Linked DNA regions of Homo sapiens. The protein of the gene in region 1 purifies or fractionates together with the protein of each later gene. This does not show direct contact. Each region holds a gene or a part of one and is shown in the gene's direction. Other genes may lie near its edges.

Region 1 (3,500 bases):
TTATGCTTATTGAATCTTTTCTATAACGAAGTCATAAAGTTAGATATTCTCCTACTTTTTTTTTCAAAGTTTTGAAATTTTATTTTTCGTATTATGATCTTAAATCTACATGGAATTAGTGTTCATGGATGGTATTTAAAGGTGTCTCATTTTATTCTATTTCATGTGGACATTTAATTGTCCCAGAACAATGTATTGAAGAGCTCTTCCTTTTCACACTGATTTGTACGTAATATCACCTATGTTTTATGCTTCCCTATTTTTCTCTTCTCTGTTATGCTTCATTTATCTATTTGGCCCTCCCAACACCACATTGTCACAATTATTAGGATTTTATAATGACACTAAATATCTACCAGGCAAGGTCTTTCTTGGCTCTTTGCCCTCCTCTATGAATTTTAAAATCAGCTTGTCAAATTCAATAAATATACTATATTAGAACTTTATATCAATATAATATTATGTTTTTTCTGCCTGTTTGAGGTTTATTTTTTCCATTTTTCAATGTAAGTTATTTCTTCATTTATCTCTTGATTTCCTTATTTTTTTTTTAAGAGAGAAGGGCTTGCTCTGTCACCTAGGCTCGAATGCAGTGATATGATCACAGCCCACTGCAGCCTCAAACTCCTGGATCCTATGGCCTCAGCCTCTGGTGTTGCTAGGACTACAGATGCTCATCACAATGTGTACCTAATTTTTAAATTTTCTGTAGTGACAGGGTCTTGCTATGTTGCCCACGCTAGTCTTGGACTCCTGGGCTCAAGTAATCCTTCTGCCTTGTCCTCCCAAAGTCCTGGGATTATAGATGTGAGTCACTGCACCCAGCCTGATTGCCCTATTTATATCTAGTGTTGAATAGACTGTTTCATGAGGTTAATAGTCTTTAAATTCTGTCACCTCTTTTTAAACATTATGTTTCTTCATGAATTTGCACTTTGGCTTACAGGCCTTCTTTAAGAAGGAGGTTATTGTTTATGAGCACCACTTCTGATAGGTTCTGAGTTCAGAATGAGGTATCATAACGGTGTTTGCATTAGGGATGGGTCAGACACAGTCTCTGAACCTGAGGCATCTTGGCTTAGTTTTTGATCTTGGGCATGTTTAAAAATAAGAGATGAGAAACTGCCAGGCATACAAACTACACATAACTGCAGGTAGTTTGGTATAGTTGTAGTCTAGGTGCATAGGTTATAGAGATGCAGAGAGGGGGTAGAAAATGAGAACAAAGACATAAGGCAGGAGAGATCATAATGAGCTGATACATGAGCTAAGGGGCTTAAACTTCATCCTGAAGATTACAAAGAGCCATTAGAATTTTAGCCAAGGGGGTGACATGATCAGATTGTATTTTTAAACATTTACTTAGGCAGTAGTTTACAGGAATAATTATATGGGAGTCACATTAGGAGGTGATTTAGGTTATCCAGGTAAAATATGATAAGGACACAGGAGCAGAGGGCATGCAGAGGAGACGACAAATTTAAGAGATGCAGATAATTGCTATAATATAGAGAATAAGATAAAGAAAGGAATCTGAGATGATTCCCAGGGTTTTTGCCTGGATGACTATATCCATAGTTGTGGATGAGGGAACATAAAAAGAAAGACAAGTCAGAGAGGAAATACAATAAATTCCACCCAGAATGTGCTGAGTTTCAGATACTTGTGCAGTTGTGGTGGCCGGTAGTGTACTGACACAGATGCTGGGTACAATACACAGCACCAAATTGGTGCTCAGACCCACAGAGCACAAATACACTTTAATCTGATTCGGTATTTATTTAACTATGTGTAAGAATACAAAACCAAAGACACAGAAAGGCAGCATCTTTCATTGGGAGGCCCAGCAGCTAACCAAGTACACAGAAGCTTTTGCTTCATCATTGATGTAAGCTGTGTACCACTGCCACGGAAGTGTGTAGATGAGGTCTGTGAGGGTCACCTTGACACAAAGAAGTTGAGCATTGAGTTCCAGGTGCTCTTTTATACCTCTCTAGTCATGCATGCTCTAGGCCTGCAAGCCAATTCACAGCTTCCCAAACCAGGTATCATCGTGGGTTGGGAAATTAATTAGACACAACTTTCCACGTTTTTCTTACTACTGTAGTCACCAAGATAAGAATGACCTTGAGGTCATTCTTAGGCAGGCCAGCATCAGCTCTGGCCTGATGTTACCTTTTGCTTACAAACAATTCATTTTGTATATGGGTTTGAAATTTATGAGAGAGGCCGGGTACGGTGGCTTACCCCTGAAATCCCGGCACTTTGGAAGGCTGAGGCGGGTGGATCACCTGAGGTCAGGAGTTCGAGACCAGCCTGATCAACATGGTGAAACCCCATCTCTACTAAATTAAAAAAAAAATTAGCTGGGCATGATTGCACATGCCTGTAATCCCAGCTACTTGGGAGACTGAGGCAGGAGAATCGCTTGAACCCGGGAGGTGGTGGTTGCAGTGAGCCGAGATCGTGCCATTGCACTGCAGCCTGGGCAACGAGAGAGAGAGAAAGGGCGAAGGGGAGAGAGAGAGCGAGAGAGAGAGAGAGAGAGAGAGAGAGAGAGAAAGGGAGGGAGGGAGGGAGGGAAGGAGGGAGAGAGGGAGGAAAGAAGGAAGGGAGGGAGGGAGGGAGAGAGAGATGTGGAAGAAATGCATGAGAGAGATGTGGACCAAAGATAGAAATATATGTTTTGGGGTCAGAGATTTGGGTTCAACTTCTTGCTGGACCACTCAGCAGTTGTGTGACTTTGGCAAGGAAGATAAGTTCGTGTCTTCATCTTTAGTACAGCGGGCCCCTGTGAATATTAACTATGGCAATGAATAAAAGGGTGTTTCATGCAGGGCAGATTTTCAATAAGTGTTGGTTCCTGTTTTCCAGAGGAAGAAATATTTTGATATCAAGTATGGGAGAGAGATAAAAGGCAATAAGACAGTAACCAAACCTCATAAAGGTAAAAAAGTCAAGTTCAAAAGTAGTAGGTTGTTTTGTCTGATGTACAGAAAGGAGTATTTAGACAATGATTGTTTCCTTCCCCCCAAAACTATCCAAATAAAGTTAACTTTTTTTTTCCAAAACTCAGGCAAACAAAATAAATAAATAAATAAATAAATAAATAAATAAATAAAATTCCAACCAGATAAGATGCTAGAAATTAAAATGCCTTACTCTCTGCATTTGTCTCAGGCCATTGATCATTTTGCTTTTGTTCAAGACAAATGTTGAGCATAAATATTGAGTAAAATAACTTTTGTTTCATTTAGGAACTGATGAGAAAATGCTCATCAGCATTCTGACTGAGAGGTCAAATGCACAGCGGCAGCTGATTGTTAAGGAATATCAAGCAGCATATGGAAAGGTAAGGTCACATTAACATGACAGGCAGTAAAGAGATCATTAATGTACCATGGTCGCTCCCACATGGTTATGCCCACAGTCTTCTGTTTCAGGCTGAGTGTAACAGAAGATGCCCTGTGCATCCAGTCAGGAGCCTGGAATCTGAGTCG
Region 2 (3,500 bases), on another chromosome or scaffold:
CGACCTTTGCCTCTCGGGTTCAATCAACTCTCCTGTCTCAGCCTCCTGAGTAGCTGGGATTATAGGTGTGCATCACCACGCCTGGCTAATTTTTGTATTTTTAGTAGAGACGGGGTTTCACCATGTTGGCCAGGCTGGTCTTGAACTCCTGACCTTAGGTGATCTGCCCACCTTGGCCTTCCAGAGTGCTGGGATTACAGGCGTGAGCCACCGCACCTGGCCTCTTGCTTGCTTGTTTTCTTATCTCCTCCCTTCCTCCCTCCCTCCCTTCCATTTCTTTTCCTTCTTTCTTTTCTTTTCTTTTTTTTTCTTTCTTTTTTATTTTTTTTGAGACAGAGTCTTGCTCTTGTCACTCAGGCTGGAGTGTAGTGGCATGATCTCGACTAACTGCAACCACTCCCTCCCGGGTTCAAACGATTCTCCTGCCTCAGCCTCCCGAGTAGCTGGGACTACAGGCGCCCACCACCACACCTGGCTAATTTTTGTATTTTTAGTAGAGATGGGGTTTCACCATTTTGGCAATGGCTGGTCTTGAACTCCTGAGCTTGTGATCCGCCAACCTCGGCCTCCCAAAGTGCTGGGATTATAGGCGTGAGCCACTGTGACCGGCCCATTTCTTTTCTTTCTTTGGGGTCTTGCTCTGTCAGGCAGGCTGGAGTGTAGTGGGGATCATGGCTCACTGCAGCCCTGAACTCCCAGGCTCAAGTGAACCTCCTAACTCAGTCTCCCAAGTAGCTGGGACTACAGGCACTGGTCACCACACCTGGCTATTTTTGTTGTTACTTTTTGTGGAGACAGAGTCTTGTTGTGTTGCCTAGGCTGGTCTCAAACTAGCCTCAAGCCGTTTTCCTACCTCAGCCCTCAAAAGTGCCAGAGTTACAGGCATGAGCCGCTGTGCCTAGCCAATAGACTTCTTTTCATTTTCTAAATTAATGTAGATTATTTTCAGCTTCTGAAATAATAGAAGACAGTTGAAAACCATGATTACTGTGGTCTATTTCTCCTTCAATTTAACTGTCTTCTTTGAGTCTGTAGAAGAGATAAAATTTCATGGTCTTATAGAAAGCATCTGAAATTTTGAAATGAGCCATCATATAGGATTGCTTGACCTATTTTCCAATATTCAGCAGCTCTCATATGATCTATTGTTTGTTAAGGGGGCGGTGGATACAGTCAACAGAAAAAACTTTTTTTTTTTTTTTGGAAACAGGGTCTTGGTCTGTTGCCCAGGCTAGAGCACAGTGATGCCATCTCGGCTCACTGTACCCTCTGCCTCCCAGGTTCAAGTGATTCTTGTGCCTCAGCCTCCTGAGTAGCTGGGACTACAGGCATGCGCCCCATGCCCAGCTAATTTTTTGATTATTTGTAGAGAACGGGTCTCACTATGTTGCCCAGGCTGGTCTTGAATTCCTGGCCTCAAGCAGTCCTCCTGCCTTGGCCTCCTAAAGTACTGGGATTACAGACGTGTGCCACCACTCCCAGCTCCAGAAAGACTCTTTATCAGACCATGAATTATACTTAATTTGCGAGTAGATCCCGACTTGAATAATCAATCTGCTCTTTACTGACACAGCCGCCTTGGGTAAGTTACCTAAACTGAGCCTTAGTTTCTCCATCTGTAAAATAGTATAATGAAGATAATGATGTAGATAAATACTTAGTAGGGTATCTGGTGCCTAAGAGGTACTCAGTGAACTTTTCTTTCCCTGCCTAGGTTTAAATTAGAAAAGAAAAAGGTCAAATTAGGAGTCTTTTAGTAAGCCCAAGTGAACCATAGCATGAGAAATAGGGTGTAAAAGCACTGAGAAAAATCTTGCATTTTCCTCTGAAAGGCACACTATTAGCATAGTATAAGTTCCCAGCAGCACTGGAAAAATGACACAAGTATTTAATAGATTAGATTAAATCTGAGAAAAGTACGTTTAATGGCATCTTTGTATCAACTGATGTTTTATTTTTCATCCCACCCCACCAGTTCTCTTTTCTGTAATATTCTGGGTAACCTTTTCCTGATTCCGTAAGGAAAATGTCTGCAGAGAATAATAAATATGAGTAAGGCTATGTAGCTAATTATAGGTTACATTCTCTCTGACTCGTCTCAGCAAACTTACAAAGACCAATAAGAACTTGAGGAGTATTATTCCTTGTCTGTCTTTGTCCTTCCCCTTACAATTCTACTTTGACTCTGTTACTTTCATATACAGTTGACCCTTGAACAACATGGGCTTGAACTGCGTGGGTCCACTTATAGGTAAATTTTTTTTTCAGTAAATACAATCAGCCCTCCGTATCAGCAGGTTCCACATCTATAACCAAATGCAGATAGAAAATATGGTATTCAGCCAGGTACGGTAGCTCATCCCTGTAATTCCAGAACTTTGGGAGGCTGAGGTGGGAGGATTGCTTGACCCCAAAAGTTTCAGAAGTTTGAGACCAGCCTGGATAACATAGTGAGACCCTGTCTCTATAAAACAGCTTAAAAATTAGCCGGGCATGATGCATGCACCTGTAGTCCCAGCTATTCAGGGGGCTAAATGGGAGGATTGCTTGAGCCTGGGAGGGCAAGGCTGTAGTGAACCTGATTGCACCACCGCTCTCCAACCTGGATGACAGAGTGAAGCCTTGCCTCAAAAAAAAAAAAAAAGAAAGAAAGAAAGAAAAGAAAATACGGTATTCATACATGCAAAACTCCCGTCTACAGAGGGCGGACTTTTATATCTGCAGGTTCCTCAGGGCCAATTGGTATCCACAGGCAGTACTGAATCCAACCCTCTGAGCGACAGCCACACTAAACTTGTGCTCAAAACCCTCAAGAACACAGAGTAATCTTAGGCAGCTGCATCCTGGCGTTAGCATGCCAAACTTGGGAGTAGATATCTGTTACTTGTCTTGCGTGTTGTCTGGTCAGGGAAGAAAAAAATATTAAGCAGAACTTCGAGTTCACATGGAAAGGATGTGTCCTTCAGAATGACCTCATTGCGATGTCAGGGGTGATTCCTCACGTTATCCATCTCCCAGTTATATCTGCTTTCTTTTTTCTTTTAAAGAAGGCAGCACAGAGGTCAGGAGTGCATTCACTCCTAACTCTGGAGTTTTGCTTTTTTTTTCCTAGGAAGCTAGCAAAGACTGACTTGTAATTGGCAATAATCACCTCTAGGAATAGAATTACAAAATTACATAATTTGTGATATTTGGGCTTCCTTACCCCAGAATGTCTCCCGACCCACAGGATACTATATCTGAAAACCTCACTAAGGGTGCCTTTTCCAGGCACTAATGGATTAGTGTATATTATTTTTCATATTTTCTTCTCTGTCGGGCATTGAGGAGTTACACATGACAGGAATAGATAACTTCAGAGCATTACTGCCTGGGGAGGGCAGGCTTTGGAGAGGTATCTCGGTTGGGGCTTTAGGAAGTGATGGAAAAGCATGAGGCTACCTGGGCAGATGTGGGGTATTATAGAAAGGAAAGGTGTGCAAAAGTGTGGAGGTGAGAGG

The links. Proteins that work in one complex are often made in the same cells at the same time.
Region 2: the proteins of ANXA3 (region 1) and SNAP23 fractionate together in Homo sapiens (co-fractionation; one large-scale study listed by BioGRID). This does not show direct contact.

What each region holds. Positions count from the first base shown.
Region 1 is NC_000004.12:78,575,770-78,579,269, forward strand, and holds part of ANXA3 (annexin A3), read left to right. Parts: intron 1-3,257; coding exon 3,258-3,352; intron 3,353-3,500. UniProt on the Homo sapiens protein: Inhibitor of phospholipase A2, also possesses anti-coagulant properties. Also cleaves the cyclic bond of inositol 1,2-cyclic phosphate to form inositol 1-phosphate.
Region 2 is NC_000015.10:42,505,634-42,509,133, forward strand, and holds part of SNAP23 (synaptosomal-associated protein 23), read left to right. Parts: intron 1-3,500. UniProt on the Homo sapiens protein: Essential component of the high affinity receptor for the general membrane fusion machinery and an important regulator of transport vesicle docking and fusion.